Regions from separate parts of the Homo sapiens genome. Here region 2 is linked to region 1. Evidence: fine-mapped QTL for protein levels in blood plasma. A gene starts in region 1. The other region holds a variant in brackets. All regions are shown on one strand. Distances are between the middles of the regions.

Region 1 (9,755 bases):
CATTTTCTTGGCGTGTGATGTGGTCAAGTTCCAGAACCTCTCAGCCTTTTTTCCCTCTGTAAAGGAGGAAGGATAAGAATAGTTCAGCTCTCATGCCTTTTATGAATAAGTCAGTAACAGGAGCTATGATGATGCTGTTTTCCTGAGCAGGTGCTGTTCCAGGCCTGGAAAGCTCAAATCTCCCCATTTCTTTAACCGTGAAGTGATTCTCTTATAAGACAGAATGTTTAAGTGAGTGTCAAGGCCACACTAAACAGTATGTAGCAGTAAGTCTCCTTCCTATTGTACAAAAGAGAATGGAAGGTTTCCCATTGTTTCTTATGTGATGATGAAAAGTTTACTGCAAGGACTGCTGTGTTTTGGGGCCCATTGCACACATAGGATCACCAGCCCAAATGTTAAAAGAACTTCCCTTGAAAGAGAAAAAATATTTGATGAAGTAGAAACGTTTTTTCTTTTTTGGAGACGGGGTCTTACTCTGTCACCCAGGCTGGAGTGCAATGGCGCGATCTTGGCTCACTGCAACCTCCACCTCCCGGATTCAAGCGATTCTTCTACCTCAGCCTCCCGAGTAGCTGGGATTACAGGTGCGCACCACTATGCCTGGCTAATTTTTGTGTTTTTAGTAGAGATGGGGTTTCTTCATGTTGGCCAGGCTGGTCTCAAGCTCCTGACCTCAGGTGATCCACGCTCCTTGGCCTCCCAAAGTGCAGGGATTACAGGTGTGAGTCACCGCATCCAGCCAGAAACATTTTTTCTATCCTGGGTTTCGATTATGCCTCTTCCGCAGGGCAGGACAAAGGTACAGCAAGAGAGGCCTAGAGCACAACACTTAAGAAGCAGCAACCTCAAGGGAGAGGCCTCCTTGAAATTTGCACCTTTACCCACTCCCTTGCCCTACTCTAGTCCAGGCCTTACTGTTCCCTTTATATGTTCTCAAATGCAATTTCCTTTCTGGGGTTTGGATTTGCAGAGCTAGGTCCTGCTTATCAGGGCAGCGTTGGAGGAAGGCTTGCAGAGCCCTTTTTCCACCCCAAAAGATGGAGCCATTACTTATGGTCATTTTTGCCACCTGCGGTTGGGCCCACATCTCCCAACTTTGGTGCTGAGTACAAGGGGCTCTTCCTAATTATGGGTTGATGACTTCCAGGGTGCTTGGTGCTAAGTTACTTTCACAAGAAACCAGATGGGTCCTTGGACAAAGGTAATTTGCTTTCATTCACTGGTGCTTTGCATTGGCGAAGTAAATCCCAACCTGTCTCCACAGGAAAATATGATAATTTGTATAATAATATTATGATAGTTTCATATATTAACATAAAGTTCTTTGCTGATCAGGCATTGCCGGACTAAATGAGTCAAGATGAGCTCCTCCAGAGCATGTGGTTCTCATCACTCTGTGTCCAGGCATCTGATAACACAGATAGTAGGTGCTCAATAAATGTTTGTTCATTGAACATATGAATGAAGAAACACCCAGTCTTTGAGTGAAATTAATACCCAGTCTATCAGGGCCTAGGCCCTTTAAGTACCAGAAAGGGCAGAGCCATGAACCTGACCTAATGATTTAAAAACCAACCACTGCTATTTCCTCCCTACAGAAACCAGTTGTCCTTCTGGCTTTTGCTGACAGGCACTTTTTCATCTTCTGTTTTGTGAGAGGCTGGTTTCTAGCTATCACCTTAGCTCTTGCTGCCTGACGGGATATTTCATATCTTTCTATATCTATCCTCTCCCTCCTATACCCACATCCACTAATGGAACCAACCTCTGAGAAACTCTGACCCTGAGCTCTGACCCTGGTGATCTTTGTTGTTGTGGCTCCTGGCCTGCAACTATAAACACTGAATTCTGCCTTGGAATAGTTTAAATACAACACTTGCCCTAGTGGCTCCCTGGCAAAGAGTCCTTTTGACAAATTCAGGAACCCTGGTGCCATCCTTAGCTGCTGCTCTACTTTGGATGTTTGTCCCCCCACGTCTCATGTTGAAATGTAATCCCCAATGTTGGAGGTGGGGCCTAATGGGAGGTGTTTGGGTCATGGAGACAGATCCCTCATGAAGGGCTTGGTGCCATCCTGGTGGTAATGAATGAATTCCTGCTATATTATTTTCCGTGAGAGCTGGTTGTTAAAAAAAGAAAGAAAGAAAGAAAAAGCCGGGCATCTCTCCTCTCTCTCACCAAGAGCTTGCGCACGCCAGCTCTTCTTTGCCTTCCGCCATGAGTGGAAGCAGCCTATAGCCCTCACCAGAAGCAGATGCCGGTGTCATGCTTCTTGTACAGCCTGCGAACCATGAGCCAAATAAACCTCTTTTCTGTATAAATTACCCAGCCTCAGGTTTTTCTTTATAGAAACACAGATGGACTAAGACAGCTGCCATCTTGAGATTTCTGCCATCAGCCACACAAGGGTTGCACCCAGCAAGCACTGCCCGGCACCCTGCTGCCATCTCCTGGAGATTGTTGATCCTCTCCTGCTCCTTAGACTGTTGGGCCTGCTCTCCTTGACCAGTTCTAACAAGCCCTTGATATCCTCAATACACTATCAGCCATCATAGTGTGAATGGAATGAGGATTATTTTATTGCTGTGATGTGAGCCTCATAGAAAAATGCACAGAAAAGTAACTAAAATAATGCAGCAAAGGACCAGAAAATGGAGGAAATGCCTATCTCCTACTGATATGCAAAGAAGCTGGAGCCAGTTGGATCAAACTGACCCAAGATTACTCATGAGTATATGTATTCAGCACGTGAAGATCACTCATGAGTCCCATATACATTTGGCAAGTGAGAATCTTTTAAAGTTTAAAACTGGTGTCATCAGGCACAGGGAACTACCCATTGGCACTAATGCTACAGCCATCTTGGAAAACATACCAAAATATCATCTATTTTCTTCCTCATTTCCAGTAAGTAAATGGCAACATTTCTTTCTAAGGAAACTGAAAAAATCTAAGGGATCATTTTACTCAGCTTGATACCAAAGTTATTTTAGTTTATAAGTATTAGACATATGGAGTAGCTGTGATAAAAGCAAAGATATTCATAAATTACATTTTTAAAAAAGAATTCTGAGAGTGTTCACATATCTAAGTTCCCACAAAAGTCAGCATGAAAGCAGTAACAGAGGAAAAGAGAAAACAGCTGAGCTGACATCACACAACAGCTAAATGGAAGGGGGATAAATTGGCATAGCCAAATAGACTATTTGACTATAAAAATTAAGAGCTTTAAAAATGTGCAAATCATTAGAATCAATAATTTTACTTCTAAAAATCTATCCTGAAAAAAAGAATCAAAAGCCAAAGATTCCTAAATAAAAAAGTGTGTTTTTTTGTTTTTTTGTTTTTTGTTTTTTTTTTGTTTTTTTTTGTTTTTTGTTTTGAGACAGAGTCTCACTCTGTTGCCCAAGCTGGAGTGCAGTGGCACAATCTCCCCTCACTGCAACCTCTGCCTCCCAGGTTCAAGTGATTCTCCTGCCTCAGCCTCCCAAGTAGCTGAGATTACAGGCGTCCAGCACCACGCCCAGCCAATTTTTTGTATTTTTAGTAGAGATGGGGTTTCACCATGTTGGCCAGGATGCTCTCTATCTGTTGACCTCATGATCCACCTGCCTTGGCCTCCCAAAGTGCTGGGATTACAGGTGTAAGCCACCGTGCCTGGCCTGTAAACATGTTTTTAAGTCTACTTAATGACATAGGAAAATATTCAAGTTAAAGCAATAGGTGAAAAAATTTTAACAGCTGTATATGCAGTATAATCAAAATTATATTAAAATATTATTTTACATAGAAAAAAAGAAAAGATATAAATGCATCAAAACATTAACACTGTTTATCTCTGCATGATGAGATTGTGAATGATTTCTTTTTTGAGACAGAGTCTCATTCTGTTGGCTGGGCTGGAGTGCAGTGGCACTATCATAGCTCACTGCAACCATAGCCTACTCCAGGTCTTATGCTATCATCCTGCCTTCATAGTTGGGATTACAGGTGTGTGCCACCTTACCACACTTTATTCAATTTTTCTTTTTTTTGAGTCGGAGTCCCACTCCGTTGCCAGGCTGGAGTGCAGTGGCGCAATCTTGGCTCACTGCAACCTCCACCTCCTGGGTTCAAGTGATTCTCCTGTCTCGGCCTCCCGAGTAGGTGGGACTACAGGCGCGCGCCACCACGCCCAGCTAATTTTTGTATTTTTAGAAGAGACAGGGTTTCACTGTGTTGGTCAGGTTGGGCTCAATCTCTAGGCCTCGTGATCTGCCCACCTCAGCCTCCCAAAGTGCTGGAATTACAGGTGTGAACCACCGTGCCCAGCCCTTCAATATTTTTAAAGATTATATAAAGAAAAGCATAGCTTCCACACACAGTTCAGGAGTCAGGGCCCTGAGTGAAATGGAGTATAAGGTGATGGAAGATTGCCCCTGGCTTTGAGGATCATCTTGCTGGATGACCAGAGTTTGTTTTTCATCTGGAAGAATCATGGTCCCCCTCTTGGAGAGAACCTGGAGTCCTGGCCACACCTTCTGAGCTTCTGACATTAAGATTCGGTGTGGTGTGTGAGCAGCTGGGAGTAAATGTGAGAACAGTCCTGCCAACTACCTTCTCTGCCCCATCACCACTCACTTCACCTCCCTCACCCCGATTCTCACCCCAGAAAATCAATATTAAGCTTCCCTTTGGAGGGGCCCCTCTTCTTTCTTTTTTTTTTAACCAGTTTTTTTTTCTCTGAAGCAATATCAAACATTAGAACAAATTCACCCACACACAATGATGGCCTCTAAATATTTGAAGACCATGTTGGTCTCCATGAGAGGGCTTCTTTGCTTCAGACTAAACCAAACCAGGTCCTTGTGTGATATTTCCCAAGCCTCTCTTTATCCTGCCAACCCTCCTTGGATGTCACACTTGGAATTGTCAAGGGTCACTTAATAGGCAGTGCCTGGAGTCAACACTGGCCCTCTGTTCTGGCCAGAAAGACACACTGTAATTCTGCTGAGTCTGCAAAGAATGTTCAAGGGGTATTTGTGTCCGTAGCTGCTCGTGCAGCATCTCAGCCTGCGGTGTCAGACTCGAACCCAGAGCTGTGTCAAATGAGTCAGGACTCCCCTCTGCTGCCCTTGTGCACTGGCAGGGGCACTAGGTTACTAGTGCTAGGAGACTCTGGTCAGTGCCCATCTGTGCTGTCACATGCAGGGCCCTGGCAGTGAGGTCTGGAGAAGGAAGAGAAGGGGCAGGGAACCCCACACGTTTTGCTGGTCATTTCCCACCGTGGTCCTGCCACGGGAACCCCCTTCTTCCACCTCCATTCCCCACTTTAGGCAGAAACATCTCTCATCCTTTTTCTTTTCTCCAAGAATCTTCCCCCAAAATCTTGGCATCTCCTATACACATCTGTACCTTTGCTATATCTGTGGGCCTTGTTCTCCCTGTAGGACTCCTCTTGGAAAGCTAACTCCCCCTGACATTGGAGAATTTTATCAAATTGCTGAGTATCCTCCCTTCCCTCTCACAGACCCCATGGCATGCTCAGATCACAGTAGAAGACATTTCCTCTGCTGCCAAACCCATGGCACTCTGAGGCTGACTGTGTCCACCTCATTCCCTCAGCTGTCTTCTCTTTGCTGCTATTACCATGTTCCAAGCAGACTTTGGAGCATCTCCCCCACAGCAGCATGGACTTTGGCAGATTTCTTGGGGACCAGCGATGTCCTAACCTGTTTGCTTTTCCAGGGCTGATGTTTGCAGGGTGTTTTTTTTTTTCTTTTGAACCAAAGCAGAAATCATCCTGTATCCTTATGCAATTCTTCCGGCAGGCTCCAACAGATAAATAAAGCCCACCACCCTCCATGGGTCTACCTTTCCCAGCAGAGCACCTGGGTTGGTCCCGAAGCCTCCAACCACCTGCACGCCTGCCAGGGCCTCTCTGGGGCAGCCATGAAGTCCCTCGTCCTGCTCCTTTGTCTTGCTCAGCTCTGGGGCTGCCACTCAGCCCCACATGGCCCAGGGCTGATTTATAGACAACCGAACTGCGATGATCCAGAAACTGAGGAAGCAGCTCTGGTGGCTATAGACTACATCAATCAAAACCTTCCTTGGGGATACAAACACACCTTGAACCAGATTGATGAAGTAAAGGTGTGGCCTCAGGTAAGTGGACCTGCTGTCTATGAGCTGAAATAATGTGTACATGGAGCTCAATCAGGTGCCTCAAAAAATCACCATCACCCAGTGCAAATGAAACCACAGAGGAGTAAATTCTCTGATTTCTTCCCAGGAGTGAGGGAAGGGGCAGGCAGAGGGCAGGAGAGGAGACATTCTGTATGGCAGTCATGGGTGTCAGGAGGGAGCTGGGTGGGGTGTGAGGTGGTGTGCAGGAGAAAAAGTGCTTCAAATGGTAGTGTGCAGATCACAGACAGAAAGTGTAACTTGCTGGAAAAACTAGGACCCAAGAGACCAGCTCCTAGTTGCCAAGTTACCACTGGCTGAAAATCACGTATCTGTCTTTGGTTTGGTTTCTCTCTAACAAAGACTGAGAATGAATAAAACTAGCATCTGGCAGATGCCTACTATATGCCAGGCCCATTCACATAGATTATCTCATTTACTCTTTCCCGGTCCTGCCTCCTGGTGCTGTGTGGTACATATATTGTTCTTGTCTTACCCAAGAGGAGACCAAGGCTCTGTTGTGTGTGTGTGTGCAGTTTTTTTGTTTTTTGTTTTTGTCTTTTTTTTTTTGGTCCAAAATCATATAATTACTAAGTCTTCAGGCTGGGATTTGATTCCATATCTGTGTTCCTTCTTCTACACAAACTGCCTCCCAAAGAGAGTTACCCACATCCCAGAGAGAAGTCTTGGCATAAACACAATTCACCTCCTCACACACTAGACAGGAAACCAACGCAGCTTGAAGCCAGTGACAAGAAAAATCAAGCTGGAAATATGCCTCGGGGATCAGTCAAGAGATTTGGAGAGGTGGAAAGAAGCTGTCTGCCTACTGCCTGTTTTGAAATTAGATTTATTTCTGATTAAGGACAATTCTTTCAGCAAATATGTATTACAAGCCTTCCTTGGACAAGAACCAGAGATATTAGGTTGAACCATATAAAACTGCCATTTTTCTATATCAAAAGCAACCAAATATTGGCCGTTTTAATGGTTCAACCTAATACAGTGGTGAAAAAGGCACAATATGTGCCCACAAGAGCTTACAATCTAGGTTGGAAAATAAGGTCAACAACAGGAAGCCTGGACCGACTGACGACTGCCATCCGTCTCACAAAGAGACAAAATATTTGAAATCAGGATTGCTCCGGATGGATTTTAAGAGTGCTGCAGCCATATTAAAGCACAGTGGTGGTTAGGAGGAAACGCTGATCAAGTCAGGGGAAATGAACACGCAACACGCACATCTGAGGGAAAAGGTAATCATGAATGGGCATTGTGACTTTTACTAAAGGCAGAGCTTCAGAGTTGGTTCCCTTGAGAAACCCAGGTGTACCCGGTTCCTGTTCGCCAGAGCTGTGAACGCTTTCAGGCAGTCACTCTGGGCACACCTGGACATCATAAAATGCGGAGCTTCTCCCAGGGGAGGGGATGCTGAGGCTTCAGGTACTAGTGAATCAGGCAGAACCAATGAGAGGCAAACAGAGCTGGGCTGAGAGGAGAAAAGGCATACTTGTACCTTCTGGATTTTTCAGGCTTCGAAGACAAGATACAGAAACAGGTGAACTCACAAGAATATCTCCAAGGATTGTTGCAAGCTCCCTCGTGTCTACACTAGTGACATCCAGTTTCCTGTCAGAGGGAGACATGCCCTTCCCCATTATCGCCAGCAGGGGGAAGTAGAGAGCAGCATCGTTGCATGCCGGCACCTGCTGCACAAGCCAAGACAAAGGAAAAACCAAGGACAACAGCAGCAAAAACCTCTAGGAGGGAAAAGAAAACGGAGGAAGGAAGGAAAGCAAATAATGAAAAGGAAGAAAGAAAGAAGGAGAGGGAGGGATAGAGGAGATTAAAAAAAGACAGTAAGATATTACCCTACACCACCTTATTTTGCAGCTTGTCTGAGAAAAATCCAAACTTGCATTTTCCAAAGCACTGCTTGAAGAGTGAAATCTTAAAAAATTAAATAAATAATAAATACAAATAAGTGTTAACACCCATTTGTAGTTTTCAAATAGAGCTCAGAGTGAGGGCTGTGGCTCCATCGACTTGTTCAAGCCCAGGACCCCGTCTGCTTTGCGAGCATCATCTGGTGCTTCCTTAATCAACAGACGAAGACCAGACAAGCCCTGGTCATTGTCCTGCCCACAGGCCAGTTCAGAGCTAGACGGAGTTGCAGACTGACAGTAAGAATGACATTTCCCTCACCTCTCCAAAAGCGGGGTGCTCTCAAGCCCAATGAGGGCGCATACCGTGGACCGCACCACAGGATCAGGGGAATAGGTTGCTCACGGCTTCACTCTTTGTCTCCACAGCAGCCCTCCGGAGAGCTGTTTGAGATTGAAATAGACACCCTGGAAACCACCTGCCATGTGCTGGACCCCACCCCTGTGGCAAGATGCAGCGTGAGGCAGCTGAAGGAGCATGTGAGTACCCTTCTTAGGATGACTGTAGGTGGCCCTTCGGCCAGCTCCACCGATTCACCCAGCGTCTCAGCCTGCCTTCTTGGCTAGCCAGGGTGCAGTTTCTAAAATTGCCATTTGTGGCCGAGCGCAGTGGCTCATGCCTATAATCTCAGCACTTTGGGAGGCTGAGGCAAGTGGATCGCCTGAGGTCAGGAGTTCAAGACCAGCCTGGCCAGTATGGTGAAACCCCATCTCTACTAAAAATACAAAAATTAGCTGGACGTGGTGACGGGCACCTGTAAATCCCAGCTCCTCGGGAGGCTGAGGCAGGAGAATCGCTTGAACCCGGGAGGTGGAGGTTGCAGTGAGCCAAGATCCTGCCATTGCACTCCAGCCTGGGCAACAACAGTGAATCTCTATCTCGAAATAATAATAATAATAATCATCATCATAAATAAAATTGCCATTTGATGCCACTTGCCCTGGGGCTGATTTTTACAAGCGTTTAACTATATCGTTGTATCCCTGAAAGCAGAGAGTGCCATGTTTCAGTATTACCCAGCAAAGGCGATTTTGCAAGGGTCACCTTTGACAGCCGTGCCTGGAGGGAGCCTGCCCGGGGTGCGAAGGGGAAGGGCAGCCATCCTCACGTGGGTTTCTTTCTCCAGGCTGTCGAAGGAGACTGTGATTTCCAGCTGTTGAAACTAGATGGCAAGTTTTCCGTGGTATACGCAAAATGTGATTCCAGTCCAGGTACAGATGACTATTCTTATTCTCATTTTTTCCTTGTAGAGAAAGTGGGGAAGGGATCTGAATAATTTTCAACTTAAGTAGTTCTAGCAGCTTTGTCGGTGAGGAAAAGGAGAAGCCAAATTTCCTGGGTTCTGGGATTTTTAAAATTGTGTTTTAAGAAGCTACTCTTGGCCTGGTGCGGTGGCTCACGCCTGTAATCCACCCACCCGAGGCAGGTGGATCACCTGAAGTCAGAAGTTCGAGACCAGCCTGGCCAACATAGTGAAACCCCCATCTCTACTAAAAATACAAAAATGTGGTGGTGCTCGCCTGTAATCCCAGCTACTAGGGAGGCTGAGGCAGGAGAATCGCTTGAACCTGGGAGGCAGAGGTGGCAGTGGGCCGAGATCGCACCACTGCACTCCAGCCTGAGTGACACAGAGTGAGACCCTGTCT
Region 2 (16,928 bases), 15 kb before region 1:
TTCTGGAATTGTCTCCAGTCCAGAAGACAGGATTTCCTTCAAAGAAAGTGTTTCTTATCATCAATCACCTCTTCCCTCTTGGACTTCCATTTCCTCTTACTGATGTTCACTTTACCCTTTTATATTGAAAACATCATTTTTTGACAGAATATAGAAACAAAACGGGAGGTTTTATGTACCATAGTGTTACCATGTGCATGCTCTAGAATCACACTGATCAGATTCAAATTCCAGTTCTACCATTTACTAGTTGTGCCTTAATTTCTCCCTCTGTAAAATGGTGATAATAACAGTACATGTTTCATAGAGTTGTTGGTTGATTTGACATTTACAACTGGAATGCCTCTCTTGGGATAGGCAGTTCAAAAAGAACAAGTTAATAATATATGTTGCACAACTGAGGTTTGGGAGGCTTATGATTTTTTAAAATTTTCCTTCCCTCTGCAATGCATGATGTTTGTGTGAAGGTGGCGCTAAAATAATGCCGTGAGAGCTATCGGCTCTGGAGCCCCAGACCTGTTTTTTTTTTTTTTTTTTTAAGCCATTTTCTAGCTCTTGCCACTAAAAATCAGGATATTAAGTAAAACAATAATAATTATAATTTTCAATGCAAACTCAAATAATAATGCATTTAACTACCCTCCTCTTTTAGTCTCCCTTAATCTTAACGTAGACAAGGCAGATGCCATACAGGCTGGATTTTGATTTGGAGCCTGATTCTGCCAAATAATAATAATAATAAATTAAAGGATGGTTTCCGAGAATTAGTAACAGTTATGGAAGCCACTGCAAGGGGCCAAATTAGGTGATTAAGAACAAGGCCGAGCACGGTGGCTCATGCCTGTAATCCCAACACTTTGGAAGGCCGAGGCAGGCGGATCCCCTGAGGTCAGGAGTTCGAGACCCGCCTGGCCAACATGATGAAACCCCATCTCTACTAAAGATACAAAAATTAGCCAGGTGTGGTGGCACATGCCTGTAATCTCAGATACTTGAGAGGCTGAGGCAGGAGAATCACTTGAACGTGGGAGGCAGAGGTTGCAGTGAGCCAAGATTGCGCCACCACTGCATTCCAGCCTGGGTAACACACCGAGACTCCATCTCAAAAAAAAAAAAAAAAAAGCAATCATGTAATTAAGTCTTCTGTGTTTTCTACCAGTTAGGTAACATTAAACCAGAACAGGAAATGTGATAATGTTTTCAGCAAGGTGTTTGATGATTCATCTTGTGATATCCCCTGGAGATAAAATAGAGGCACATAGTTGGATTCATAACTCACTAGTTACTGTTGAACATACTGTTGATTAATGGCTCAATGTCAACCTGTAAAGGAGAGAAGAGAGTCTTTGCTGGCACAAAACAAAGCTATGTTTTCAGTCCTGATCTGTTCAATAGTTTTATTGTCAGTGAGCATTTCAGGAAGAGCACTTAAAACACCAGGTGCCTACTGTGTGTAAGTCACAGAGTTTTCACAGCTCTTATATGTTTGTCATTGCAATAAGTCCTAGGAAGGGGCAGGACGCATTAAAACTGACCAGATAAGCTTTTGGCTGTTGTACAATGTTTCAAGTGGGAAAAAGCAACTTAACCTGTAAGAACAGGGTTGGGGTACACCAGCTTCATCAACAGCATTGAGAGGGAAGCATGATTTGACAGTAATGCTATCACGGTGTCATTTGAATTGATGTCCCCCAACATAATCACAAAGGGTCTTGCACTTTGTGGGCAGAGTAACTGTAACAAAATAGAGTCAGTAGAACAAAAAGTATAACCACCAGGGCCATTATAAGAAGCTGTAAGTCTTCGAAATATGAGTTAAATGCCTCTGTGTTTTCTGGTAAAGAAATGTTGACATTGGTGGGAGCAAAGGTCTTCCTCTAATTCTCAGCAACTGGTAGAGAAGAAAAGCAAGGGCATCACAAGAAGCAAGGGGAGAACGTAATGATAACACAAGGGTGGTGTCCTGGTTACTCTTGTCATTGTCATATAACAAATTATCCTAGCATTTACTGGCTTAACGCAGCAACATTTGTTTTTTTCTCACAAATCTGCAATATGAGCTAGACTGATGGAGACAACTCCTTTGCTCTACTTGGTGTCAGCTGGGACAACAGCTTGAAGGCTGGGTCTGGAGTCATTTCTACTCACATGTCTGACAGTTCATTCTGGGAGGTGGGAGGACTCAAGCAGCTGGGAACTGGAAATGGGGAGACTCCTCACGAATCTTTATCTCTGTGTGGTTTCTGCAGCATGGTGGCTATACATAGCTGGACTTCTTACATATTGGCTCAGGGCTCCCAAGACACGTTTCCCAAAAGGAAGTGGAAATGGGTAGAAGCTTTAGTTCTTCTTATGACTTAGCCTCATAAGTCGTGCAGCATCCTTTCCATCGCATTTTCATTTATGGAGGCAGCCACAAAGGCTCATCCCTCTTCCTGGGGAGGGGAATTAGACTGGACCTTTCAAGAAAAGAATCTTTAAGGTTCTGAAGGATATGTAGACCTGCAAATATTGTTGTGGCCATTTTTTGGAAAATACAGTTTGCCCCAGGTGATCAAATGAGACAGCCATACAATTAGCAGCTGAGACTGTGGAACATCAGAACAGCCATGGAGGGGCCACATAGTGCTCACAAAAGGCAAGTGAATTCAGAAAGAATGAGGTGACCATTTGCAAGTCCATGAGTACCAACCCCTATCCCTGCCATCAAGGAAGGAAAGCATTCTCGCAGCTGGAGTTTCAGGGATGAGATCTGAGCAAATGTCACACCATTCTGGCCCCTAGGATTATCCCTTTCTCTGCTGGGGTGCCTGGGAAATGTGGATTACACATCGGTGATATTAATGAGAACATGAGAGATGCTGATCTATGGACACTCGAAACTGAGAGGAATGTCAAATGACAGATCTGGTTTCTCACTATAGCTGCCAACACCTCTCAGATCCCAGTTCCAGAAAAAGAGGACAACTATCTGTTTTTTTAAACCTAATAGTATGAGAAAAGTCTCTTCAAGTAAATTGTATCTTCTACTACTCTACAGGACTCAACATAATCATCACTGAATTTATTTCTTCTGATTGCCAGGCACTGTGCTAGGTGCTGGGATATATAAGAGAGCTTTTTAACATAAAACGCACACACCTAATTAGCCAGCAAGCAAGACAAACAAAGGCTGAATCACTGGCCAGTAAGAAATCTTAAATATGTTAGTTAAACATGGAAAGTTGAGTTCATTTACCACAGAAAGAACACTTACAATTAAATTATGACAATGGCCGGGCGCGGTGGCTCATGCCTGTAATCTCAGCACTTTGGGAGGCCAAGGCGGGCGGATCATGAGGTCAGGAGTTTGAGACCAGCCCGACCAACATGGTGAAACCCCATCTCTACTAAAGATACAAAAATTAGCTGGGCACGGTGGTGCATGCCTGTAATCCCAGCTACTCAGGAGGCTGAGGCAGGGGAATCACTTGAACCCGGGAGGCGGAGGTTGCAGTGAGCCGAGATCACGAGATCACGCCACTGCACTCCAGCCTGGGCAAGAGACCGGGACTCTGTCTCAAAAACAAACAAACAAAAAAATGACAGTAAAACATGTTTCAACAGTCTATGCAATAAACAGAGAAGGAGGCCACACTCTGCATTGCCTGCATTATCCATCACAGGATTTTTGCCCTGGGCCTCACAAGCCCAGTCTGTTGATGAGCAAGTGGTTAAAGCTATGTCCCCTTCATGTGTGGCCATTGCCTTTGTAGGGGGCATTTTGAAGACATTGAAGAAGAACGTAAAGGATTCCTCGATTTTTGATCCACTTAGATGGTAAAACTGTAGATAATGAAAGAGATTTTAGAACTCAGAACAAGACCTTTGAGAAATTCTCTGTGAAGCCCATAAGAACAACCTAAAAATAGGCATTTCTACTTGCTATGGTTTGAATTTTAGCCCCCTCCAAAACTCATGTTGAAAATCCCCGATGTGGCAGTATTGAGAGGGGGAGCTTTTAAGAGGCGATTGGATCATGAGGTGATTGCCTTTGTGAATGGATTAATCTACTCATGGACCAGTGAATCAATAGGGTTGTTGGCTTTTATGAAGAGAAAGAGAGGCCTGAACTAGCATGCTCAGCCCCCTCACCATGTGATGCCCTGCACCATCTGGGGAGTCTGCAGTGTCCTCACCAACAGGAAGGCCCTCGCCAGATCTGGCCTCTTGAACTTGCACTTCTCAGCCTCCATAACTGTAAGAAATACATTTTTTTATTTATAAATTATTCAGTTCCAGATATTCTGTTACAAGCAACAGAAAACAGACCAAGACACTTTTTTTTTTCTCAGCTCATTGCAACCTCTGCCTCCTAAGTTCAAGGGATTCTCCTGCCTCAGGCTCCTGAGTAGCTGGGATTACAGGCACCCACCACCATGCCCGCCTAATTTTTATATTTTTAGTAGAGACAGGGTTTTGCTATGTTGGCCAGGCTGGTCTTGAACTCCTGACCTCAGGTGATCTGCCTGCCTTGGCCTCCCAAAGTGCTGGGATTACAGGTGTGAGCCACCTTGCCCAGCCCCAAGACACTATTGATGTGATATTTGAAGGCACTGAACTTGAAACTCTAGGGAAGAACTCAAACCAGCTCATCTGAGCATGTATGTGCATACAGAGAATTTGATCAAGGAAGGTAATGCAAAACTGAGCTGTCACAAACTATCACAGTACGTGGTTTCTAAAATTTATTTCTATGGTGGCCTTTGAAGCACAAACCTTAGGAATTTTCAAGCCCAGACTTTTATCAGCATGGCTCACTTCTGAGAGGAACTGGCTGAGCTGAGAAGTAGCCATAGGCTACCAGCCCTGAGTGTGGTGTCTCTGGAATTCTGGTGATATGAATCCCACATGAATATGAATCCCAGAATGATAATAAAATTTTGGACACTGTGGCCAAACCGTGGATAATTCCTGGATCCACTCAGTGCACAGATATCATGTTGTCTTTTATTTAACTCTTGCTATAGAAACTGAGAGCCCCCTCAATTACATAGACCTAGGTCCAGGAAGGAAACACACTTAATTGACACACCGCACAGTTGTCCAGAAAGCAGTATGTGAAACTGCAGTCTTCTCATTGGTTTGCTCAAACATGATTGTGCTTAGCTCCGAGTCTACAGTTCTAAGTCCAAGTGCTGGCTCTGCGGTGAGACTGGATTTAAATCCCTTCTCTTCCAATTATTAGCTCCATGACCTTGAACAAGTATGACAACCTCTCTGAGCCTCCTCACCCAACTCATATTGTGAAGATTGAACAATATGATATATTTAAAGTACCTGGTATGTAACAAGCACTCATTAAATATTAGGTATTATTACTGTTATATAATAAATGTGACTAAACTTTTTGAACCAATTTGCATCTCTGTTAAGACATATTTTTGAAACACTAACAAATTTCCCCAATGTCAAACAGTGTAAAACATTCATTGACCTGCACAGGTGTGGATTTCTGACCCCGTGACACCCTTTCCTTGGGAAAAAACCAAGAATGTCTCCGCTGAAGAATATCTGCAGAGAATACATGGAAACCAATCCTACATTCTCAGCCTGCTCTAGGCCCAGAAAAACAGAAACTGCTATGAGGGCTATTACTAAACATGGAAAGAGGGAAAGATAAAACAGCCACAGAGCCTCGGGAGAAATGAGAGCAGACATCTCAGGAGCTGGCCTGAGACACGCCACCTGGCAGAGTGTTTGTATAGCAGGAAGCCTCAGACCTCTGACCTTCACTGCTAGAGATCTGGCAGTCCAGAGTTACAGCGCTTGGTGTGACCCATTGCCTTTCCCCACCAGCACTAGGGTAACCAGATCATCTCTGTTTGCCTGGGACTTTTTCTGTTTTAGCACTGAAAGTCCCATGTCCCAGAAACTTCTCAGTCCCAGACAAACCTGGACAGTTGATCCTTCTAAGCCCCAGCATGAAAGGTGCTGCTTGCATGGAAGCCCATGCAGCTCACGTCATTCAGAACTGTTATGAGCAAGTGCAGAGTGATGGCTGAAGGCACAGGAGGGGCTAGAGCTAGGCTGAGTTCTGAGACTGTCTCATGAAGGAGGAACTCATGAGAGCTGTGCATGGAGACCAGGTCGGGCTGCACCATAGCACAACTGTCACCCGGGTGAACACGTGCCAGGGGAGGGCCAGACCAAGGCAGAGCCTTCCCAAGCTGGTTCACAGATTGGCACACACTGAAAACAACATTCTACATTGCACATTTACGCAGGGGACAGGGAGAAAATAATTTTGTTTGGTACAAGTTGTATATGCACCCTCTTCCTTTATATTAAAGATAAATTATTGCATGTGCTGACTATATGATAAAAACATAAGCATAACTATAATTGGCTTTCATTTCCATTTTCTGTTTATTTTAATGAATAATGTTAAACACTTATACATACTAAGAAGATAGGCTACTTACATGGTTATGGGCTTAAAGGCCTCTGGGGAAAAATATATATAATATATTTATAAATAAATATATATTATATATAAAATATAAATATGTAATATAAAATTTATATATAAATATATATAATATAAACATTGTATATTATATAAAATATATATCATATAAACATTGTATATAATATATATAATATAAACATCATATGTTATATATAAATATATATATTATATATACATTTTGACAGAGTCTCACTCTGTCACCCAGGCTGGACTGCAGTGGCACAGTCATGGCTCACTGCAGCCTTGACCTCCCAAGCTCAAGCCATCCACCCATCTCAGCCTCCCAAGTAGCTGGGACCACAGGTGCATGCCACCATGCCTGACTAATTTTCATATTTTTTGTAGAGACGAGGTTGTAAATATCTTTAAATTTTTTTTTTCTAATCGTATGTTGGCAAAATTCTCCCACTTTTGTTTGCTGTATTCCTTTAAAAATTTATTATTATTTTTAAAATACTGTTTATTAATGTTTTTATATAGAGATGTGGATCTCACTATGTTGCCCAGGCTGGTATTGAACTCCTGGGCTGAAGCGATCCTCCCGCCTCGGCCTTCCAAAGGGCTGCGATTACAGGCAGGAGCCACCGTGCTCAGCCTGTTTGCTCTATTATTTTTTAAATTTTTGTTTGTCTCTTTTTGTTTGTTGTGTAGTTATTAATTTTATGAATCTCCTTAAGGTAAATATTAAGGGATTTTTACAATTTAGATAATAAAATATATTAGTTGTTTGCTATAAACAGTGATATTTCAGATTTTTGGCTGACTTGGACTCCTGACAGCTGGCAACAGCCCACTGGCTGGTCTGAGAGTCCCTGTCACAGTCTGAGCTTGAAGGCACAGTTTGCAAAAACCCTCAAGAAGGAAAGCCCAGAACCAGCAAAAAACATCTTTTTTTTTTTTTTTTTTTGAGACGGAGTCTCGCTCTGTGGCCCAGGCTGGAGTGCAGTGGCGTGATCTCGGCTCACTGCAAGCTCCACCTCCCGGGTTCATGCCATTCTCCTGCCTCAGCCTCCCGTGTAGCTGGGACTACAGGTGCCCGCCACCACGCCTGGCTAATTTTTTTTTGTATTTTTTAGTAGCGACGGGGTTTCACTGTGTTAGCTAGGATGGTCTCGATCTCCTGACCTCCTGATCCGCCCGCCTCGGCCTCCCAAAGTGCTGGGATTACAGGCGTGAGCCACCGCACCCTGCCACAAAGAACATTTTTTAAAATGTTCCTCTATTTGCATGAAAGGGCACTGCCTGCTGTGGAAAGGATGGATCCGGTGCACATTCTATCAACTATGGAGAGTCATGCAGGGAAACAGATTGGTTGCTGTCCAGCTTCCAGGTCATTCTAGTGTCATATTAACTCCCCTTTCCGAGTGCTGCCCGGGGCCTATTCATGCCTACCCCTCCCCATATGACTCAGGGAGGGGCTCTCTGTACTCTTGGCAGCCAGAGAAAAGCCCATGATCTCTGGTGTAGAGATGAAGTGGGCACAATTACATCAAAAGGAGAGAGGGAGAGCTCACTCGTGAAAGCTTTCATTTGGTATAAAGAAACAATCAGGGGGAGAAACGAGATGGGGGTGAAGCTGGAGATATTTCGGATGATAATCTACCTCACTTTCCCTGTGGCTATGTTCTGGGTTTCCAATCAGGCCGAGTGGTTTGAGGATGATGTCATACAGCGCAAGAGGGAGCTGTGGCCACCTGAGAAGCTTCAAGAGTTAGAGGAATTCAAAGAGAGGTTACGGAAGCGGAAGCGGCGGGAGGAGAAGCTCCTTCGCGACGCCCAGCAGAACTCCTGAGGCCTCCAAGTGGGAGTCCTAGCCCCTCCCCTGATGAAATATACATATACTCAGTTCCTTGTTATTCAAAAAAAAAAAAAAAAAAGAGAAAACATCAGGAGCAATTGTAGGTTTCTTCAATGGGAAAAATAAGATTAAAACAATATACTTCATTGCTTAAACATTTATTAAACAGCCACTATGTGCATGAACTTCAGGAGGCACTGGGAAACCAGGGATACCCAGAGCCCAGCTCCTACACAGAGGAGTCCAGCCAGTGCAGGGTGGGGTGCAGGCCGTGCTCCAGCCTGTCCTCCGCAGCAGATCCCTGAGCTCAGACTCCTCCCAACACACAGCTTAAGAAGGTGCCTTCCAATCTATTAGGCATCCTCATCTGGGGTTTGCTGATGATGAGTCTGGTTTTCTTTCTTTCTTTCTTTCTTTCTTTCTTTCTTTCTTTCTTTCTTTCTTTCTTTCTTTCTTTCTTTCTCTTTCTTTCTCTTCCTTCCTTCCTTCCTTTCTTCTTTCTTTTTTCCTTCCTTCCTTCCTTCTCTCCTTCCCTCCTTTCCCTTCCTTCCTTTCTTTTTCCTTCCTTCCTTCCCTCCCTCCCTCGCTCCTTCCCTTCTTTCTTTCTCTTTCTTTCCCTCTCTCTTTCTTTCTTCTTTCTTTTTCAAAACAGAGTTTCACTCTTGTTCTCCAGGCTAAAGTGCAGTGGCGCGATCTCAGCTCACTGCAACCTCCGCCTCCCAGGTTCAAATGATTCTCTTGCCTCAGCCTCCCAAGTAGCTGGGATTACAGGCGTGCGCCACCATGCCTGGGTACTTTTTTGTATTTTTAGTAGAGACGGGGTTTCACCATGTTGGCCAGGCTGGTCTCAAACTCCTGACCTTGAGTGATCTGCCAACCTCAGCCTCCCAAGCTGCTGAGATTACAGGTGTGAGCCACTGTGCCCCAGCCTGGTTTTCTTTTTTTTTTTCTTTTGAGAAAGAGTTTCCCCTTCGTCACCCAAGCTGGAGTGCAATGGCACGATCTCGGCTCACTGCAACCTCTGCCTCCTGTAATCCCAGCTACTTAGGAGGCTGAGGCATGAGAATTGCTCAATTGCTGGGATTCCAGGCACACACCTCCACGCCTGGCTAATTTTTGTATTTTTTGTAGAGATGGGGGTTTCATCATGTTGGCCAGGCTGGTCTCGAACTCCTGACCTTGTCATCTGCCCGTCTTGGCCTCCCAAAGTGCTGGGATTATAGGCATGAGCCACAGCGCCTGCCCTGGTTCTGGTTTTCTCCACTCCTGCAGCATGGTTTTCATCACCTTCTCCCACCTCCCCTTCCTCCTCCTTCACACACATTCTTCTTTGAAAATGTCATCACCACCTCCTCTATGTATGGCACGGAACCAGACCCTGGCCACCGCTGTTTATAGCAAGAGAAGCGGACCATAGTAGAGGAGCTGTGCCAAGCAGGCCCTGTGCTCTCAGGACAGCAGTAAGTTGTAGCTGCTCCAGACCTGACACGTGTGCTCTGAAAGGTGACTTCATTCCTTGTTGATGAATGCATCTGAATGGAAAGTGTTAGAATGATAGGAACTTTAAGTCACACACTTATTTTAGTATTTAACAAAATGCCTCGGCTAAGGAAAAAACTAAACAATTGAGGCAATTGCAAAAAATCAAAGTCTGACAACCTCATGGTTATAGCCCTGTTTCCAGAGTAGTAGGCCCCCTGGCTCTGCCCTTGTGCACCCCAAAACAGCCTGGCCTGTAAGTGGAAAAGTACATGTGGCATGTGTGTGTGTGTGTGTGTGTGTGTGTGTGTGTGTTAGAGACACCATCAGAGAGTGGCAGGGCAGAGACAGAACTTAGGCTCGTAGCTGCTGGTGGGTTAGAATTTCTACTTGGGTGGAGCTCAGGTAGCCTGGCCGGTGGTGAGGTGGACTGACATGTCACAAAGTGGCGCTCACATAGCATTTTATGTTCAACTGAGAAAACACCAGTCATTCATAGCAAAGGAAGGGAAGTGCTGACGGAAATTAGGGTGCCCTAGGCCCCATCCCCATCCACTCCAGGTCACCCTGTATGCCCCGATTCCCTGCTCGGGTTCTCTGGTCAATAATTTTTCCCTGGACACTGAATAACAAAAGGACTTTGAACTTACACTTCATTACATCAGAAAGTCACTGAACCTTGACCTGTTAGTTTTGGATTTTCTACCAAGAGATAATGCTGCCGCCCCTCTTTACAATCTCCTCTTTACATGTCGTCTCTGTTGGTTTAAACTGTCCTTGGTAACCATTTCCTATCCCTTCTTAAATGTGACGTTCCCAAATTTCTTTTGGTTAAGGGTTGTATTCTCTGTTCACTTTTCAGAATATGCTGTGTTTTAGTATACAGTGAGTGGACATTGTTTTTTAGCAGTGATCAAATGACATAGGAACTATGAGAGGACCACTCCCTTCTTCAGGGCGTGACTGCCTGCCCTGGGCACTGCTGCCTTCTCCTAGACACTGCGGCCTGTTGCTGGGCACTGCTTCCTCGACCCGGGCACTGCCCGGCTACTGGACCCTGCCCTCTCCTGCCCCAGCTGAGGCCACGGAGCACCCAGGGCCATCCAGAGCTCTGTGCAGACTGTAGAGGAAGGCCTCTTTTCTCTGCTGTGTTACAAGCTGTCAACAGGCATCAAAACAGAGATACCTGAACTTCCTGGGGTCCTCTAGGGACAGTCTCTTCAGTTCTTATTTGTAACAGAACTTGGATATGAGTTCAAAGTAGGGCTGAGCCAGAAGCCAAAACTAAGCAACACTCTTGTTGTTCCCATTGATCACGGAGGCTCTGTTACCAGGCCAGGCCTGTTGGTCCTGACTCTCCAGCCCTACTGCAGGTGGTCCGTCCCACTAGTTCCCAGAGAGCAGCAGCACAGCTTGGAGGAGGCTGAGGCTCTGGGACTGCACAAAACATACTAGCTATCTATGCAACTCTGTCCTGTTTAATTCAGGAGCGGGAGCTGAAACTTTTAGAAGCTATGGGACACATATTGGAAAAGAAAAATCAAAGCTTGGCAGGGCGTGGTGGCTCACGCCTGTAATCCCACCATTTTGGGAGGAGGAGGTGGGCGGATCACTTGAGGTCAGGAGATCCAGACAAGCCTGGCCAACACGGTGAAACCCCCTCACTACTGAAAATACAAAAAATTAGCTGGGCATGCTGCCGGGCACCTGTAATCCCAGCTACTTGGGAGGCTGAGGCAGGAGAATCACTTGAACCCGGGAGGCGGAGGTTGCAGTGAGACGAGCTTGCACCACTGCACTCCAGCCTTCCACTCCAACAAGAGTGAAACTCCATCTCAAAAAAGAAAGAAAGAAAAAAGAAAAATCAAAGCTTGTTGAGCAAGTGGCAAGGTTCAATATTTATGCAAATCTAAGGAATACAACAACATGTACATTGGCACGTCATTCACAATATGCTGAGTTAATATAAGTGATGACAGTCATATGTTCATAGACATACAATTTCAAATGCAAATTTTAGGATAGTCAGTTGAGGGTAGAAATTGTGAGATTTTTAAAAGAAAAATGCCTTTTTCATTTTATGTTGTTTCTCATCTGTGTCACTATGGTATGACTCTAGGTGATTTTGTAAGAGCCAACACTTGCACTGTTTTCTGAACAACTCCAGGCTTCTGTTTGGGGAAACCCACCCTGAGGGAGTGAAGCAGGAGTTGTCGCACTGTGGGGCACACGACACAGGGCAGGATTTGGATCCTGGTCAGAATTCTGCCTCTACCTCTTGCCAGCTGTGCAAATCCCTACACAGAAGTTGTGATATAAAAGATCAAGAGAGCAAGATAGATGATGAGAATTGTATATTTTTTCTTTTCTCTTCCTTCCTTCGTTTCTCTTTCCTTCCTTCCTTCCCTCTTCCTTCCTTTCTTCCCTCCCTCACTCCCTCCCTTCCTTACTTCCTTCC[T/TTCCC]TCCCTCCCTTCCTTCCTTCCTTCCTTCCTTCCTTCCTTCCTTCCTTTCTTTTTCTTTCTTTTCTTTCTCTCTCTCCCTTCCCTTCCCTTTTCTTTTCTTTTCTTTTCTTTCCATGTTTTGCTACATTGCACAGGCTGGACTCAAACTCCTGGGCTCCTAGTAGTCTCATCAGCTACTAGATACTCCTAGAAGCTGGTGATACTATAGGCACATGCCATGACACCAAGCTTGATAGGGATTCTTAATTGATTTTTCCCTTGGTCTGTATTTGATCTATTATTTGACCTGTTTTAAGTATTTTTCTTTTATTTAAATGACAATTTTTTCCCATTTTTTCGAGTCAGGGTCTCACTCTGTCACCCAGGCTGGAGCGCAGTGGTATGATCATAGCTCACTGCAGCCTCAACCTCCTGGGCTGAAGCAATCCTTCCACCTTAGCCTTCAGTGTAGCTGGGAATGCAGGTGCACGCCACCATAACAGTTATTTTTTTTGTTTTTCCTAGAGACAGCATCTCACCATATTGCTGGGCTGTTCTCAAACTCCTAGGCTTAAGTGGTCCTCCCAACTTGGCTTCTCAAAGTGCTGGGATTATAGGTATGAGCCACCACGCCCAGCCTCAATTCCATATTTTTCTTTTTTTTTTTTTTTGAGATGGAGTCTCACTTTGTCACCTAGGCCGGAGTGCAGTGGCACAATCTCGGCTCACCACAACCTCCACCTACCAGGTTCAAGTGATTCTCCTGCCTCAGCCTCCCGAGTAGCTGGGATTACAGGCGCCCATCACCACTCCCAGCTAATTTTTGTTTTTAGTAGAGACTGAGTTTCACCAGGTTGGCCAGGCTGGTCTCAAACTCCTGACCTCAGGTGATCCGCCTGCCTTGGCCTCCCAAAGTGCTGGGATTACAGGCTTGAGCCACCGCGCCCGGCAGTGACCATATTTTCAATTTAAAATTTCTGATTCTTTAAAAAATCTGCTTTTCTCCAGCTGTGCCTTGAGGTTTCGATGAATAACATGGCTGGATTTAATTTATTAGTTGGGCAGGCACCTAGCAGAGTGGTAATTGGAAGAAAGGATTTTAAAGACCTTGAAAAAGGCTCCCTATAGAAAGGCCACCTGAGCATGGCATTCCTGTGGAAGGGCCTAGATGTGAGCAGCTCAAGAGCAGACTCCAGGTTCACAAGGATTTCTACCATTCCCTAAGCAAAGTCCATACTCCTACACCTCGACTTTGCCAACATATTCCTTCCAACCGATAGCCGTACTCCCATTTCTATCTATCCAAATCCTGCCCATCCTTCAGGGTCAAATTCAAAGTGTCCCCTGTCCACAACACCTTCTTTCCTCTCCCCCTGTCCACCCTCAGCTGGAAATGATCCACTCCCCCCACCCCACCCCCACTCTCCTGCAAATGCCTACAGCACTTGGTTCCTCTAACGTACTAGTTATGATTAATGACTGGCTATATGATTTACATGGCCCAATGCAAGATGAAAACCCAGGGCCCTTGCTAAAAATTCAGGCTGGTCAACATGGTGAACCCCTGTCTCTACTAAAAATACAAAACTTAGCCAGGCAGGGTGGCACATGCCTGTAGTCCCAGCTACTCAGGAGGCTGAGGCGGGAGAATCGTTTGAACCTGGGAGGCGGAGGTTGCAGTGAGCCGAGATCGCACCATTGCACTCTAGCCTGGGTAAAAGACCGAGACTCTGTCTTGAATAAAAAAAGAATTTCAAGACAGCCACAGCAGAACATTCCACAGGCACAGGGTCCTTTTAAGTGCAGGGGCCTGCACAGGACACACACCTGGAAAGCCAGCCCTGGTGATTATACTTGCAGACTCCAATGGGAAGCTGAAAGTCCACTGGGCAAACACAATCTTTTAAATGCCTACGGAATCCCCTCCCAGGGAAGCTTCTGAGCTGCTCGCCTCTCCTTCCTCAGCCCTGTTTCATTGTCCCAGCACCTCTGTGCCTGCTTCTCCACCTTGCAGGAAACTTAGCTGTGTACTCGCATCCTGAGCCCCAACCAGCCACTCTGACCTATGCCTACTGCCTTCTTCTCTTTGAGTCCTGCCTCATTGGGTTCCCTGAGTTGGCCGCTGTTCCTTGTAGCACAAAGAATGGGGAAAGATTGATCGGTTACTTTCCTACAGTACCACTATCCCCCTTTTGTTCCGGTTCCTCTTGTTACAGGAAGTTGCCGACACACAACCCTCTCTTTGCCAGCCTGTTGATGGAAAAAGATGTGACCTCTAGCACTGTTTACCTGTTATATTTCTACCGTCTGAGTAAGTGGTAATATAGCCGCTTACCTGATGCCAGGAATGCTAAGCATACCGTATTACTTAATGCTCTCATTAGTCCTTTGAAGTATACATTGCTGCTATTCCTTTTACAGAAGGATAAAATGAGATGCAGTGAGTTAAGTAATTTGCCTGAGTTGTTAAAGCTAAGGAACCCTTACTCTTAGCCACCAGGATGTATCGCTTCTAGAGACAGGCCACTCGAAGGCAAAGACCGTATCTTGGTCTTTAGTGTTCCCTATATTGCCTCTTTGTGCTCTCAGTCCTAGTGTATTATTAGAGCTATAAAGAACTCTCATTTATCGGCCAGGCGCGGTGGCTCATGCTTGTAATCCCAGCACTTTGGGAGGCCAAAGCGGGTGGATCACCTGAGGTCAGGAGTTCGAGAGCAGCCTGGCCAACATGGTGAAACCCCATCTCTACTAAAAATACAAAAATTAGCTGGGTGTGGTGGGCACCTGTAATCCCAGGTTCTCGGGAGCCTGAGGCAGGAGAATCGCATGAACCCAGAAGGTGGCGGTTATAGCAAGCCGAGATCGCGCCACTGCACTCCAGCCTGGGCGACAGAGTGAAACTCCATCCCAAAAAACAACAACAAAAAAGGACTCCCATTTATTGATACCTTACCCTGTGCCAGGCCCTACGCTGAGCATTTTGCAAATGTTATCTCACTAAATTTTCAGCTCATCTCTACTAGCCAGGTTTTACTGCCCGTATTTAACAGATGAAGAAACAAAGGCAGAGCCAGATTTAATCTCTAGTTAGGTCACATAGCAAGTAAATAGTGGCACCAGGGTTTGGACTTGGGTCTATCCTGATTCTCCATGTAAGCTCCCTCATCAGGTTGCTCCCACACCTCTTCCTCCCACCCATCCAGCCTCTCTCCATCTTACCCTTACCTTCCTGCAAGTATCCATCCTCCCACGCCTCAGTCTCCATTAGAATCTGAATTCTGGCAGGGCGCGGTGGCTCACGCCTGTAATCCCAGCACTTTGGGAGGTCAAGGCAGGCAGATCACCTGACGTTAGGAGTTCGAGACCAGCCTGGCCAACATGGTGAAACCCCATCTCTACTAAAAATATCAAAAATCAGCCGAGCGTAGTGGCGGGCACCTGTACTGTAATCCCAGCTACTCGAGGCTGAGACAGGAGAATCGCTTGAACCCAGGAGGTGGCGAGATTGTGCCACTGTACTCCAGCCTGGGTGAGAAGAGCAAAACTCCGTCTCAAAACAAAACAAAACAAAACAAAAACAAAAGAATCTAAATTCTGGAGGCTCAATCTGTTGTTTAACCTACCAAATGATCTCGCTGCCTGTTGCATAATCCCAGCACAGACAGAAAACTGCCCACATTAGCTGCCCTGTCCCTGTGATCTGCACCTTCTCAATTTCAATTTGTCTCCTTTTACTATTCTAACAAGAGCATGAGAGGCAAAGACTGCCCATATCCTCAAGTGTATTCAAGAGATCAGACAACAAAGAGTGAAGAAATGCTACAGCCAAGAGCCATGCCAGATCCAAGCAGAGTAGGAGGCTTAGTCCCCTCTTATGGGTCTTCCATTAGCCTCATATATTTTCCCTCTCAACATTCAAGAAGTCTCATCAAGGTAGTCTATGGAGAAGAAGGACTTGTTTGTTGGTTTCATTGTTAATCTTTCTGAGGGTCCAGATATGCCTCTGAAAACCAAGAGAACCCCTCCTGTCCTGCCAGTAGCAGCTGGCTAATCTTCATCCTGTAATTGTTGAATTGTCCACATGTACACACATGTGCATGCACCAGATCACACCCACTCAGAGAGCTAAGAATTAATTTCACTCCTAATCACAGGATGATTCATCCTATTATTTAATCATTGGTGCTAGTCTTGCCTGGTCAATAGGATGATGATGTAGTCTCAAAACTAATTCACCTGAGAAGTATGTAAAGGAATAGGGATATTGGAGGCCAGAGAAGGAAAACAAGATACAGCACAGATGTCTCTAAATACCTGAAGCATAATATAGAGACCAGGGATTTAGTCTGTATAGTGTTTTAGTTCGGGTAACTCCCGAGGGCAGAATCTGGGTTTGTTGGTCAGGTTACAAGGCAGGCAGGGAAATCTCTTAGTAATCAGTGTGAAGCAACAATGGAATGGGCTGCAGGAGTGGGAGAGAGGCCCTCATATCTCCACATCCTCAAGCAGACACCAAACACTGGAAGGAAGCTCTGCATTGAGTGATGGGCTGGTCCAGAGCAACCCCGTCAGTGATCAGGTTTGGGGCCCAACTGTGCTGGGCAGGAGGCAGGTGCTGGAAATCAAGGGTAAATAAGGCATGGACACTGCTGTCATCTGGAGACCCTTCCACCTCAGGGACTGTGCTCCTCAGGCTGAGGGCA

What was found. PIP is the posterior inclusion probability: the model's chance that the variant is causal. Sun 2018 read protein levels with aptamers (SomaScan).
Region 2: its variant is fine-mapped to the plasma level of the AHSG protein (Sun 2018, PIP 0.95).

Annotation. Positions count from the first base shown.
Region 1 is chr3:186,607,208-186,616,962 of GRCh38, forward strand. AHSG (alpha 2-HS glycoprotein) reads left to right here and starts at 5,853. Exons shown (of 7, transcript NM_001622.4): 1 at 5,853-6,147; 2 at 8,478-8,588; 3 at 9,236-9,320. The coding sequence starts at 5,935.
Region 2 is chr3:186,588,901-186,605,828 of GRCh38, forward strand. It overlaps the pseudogene PET100P1. Among named protein-coding and RNA genes, the nearest start is that of AHSG, 16 kb to the right of the region's middle. RefSeq lists an enhancer at 8,040-8,334. The variant T/TTCCC (reference allele first, on the strand shown) is at 12,247.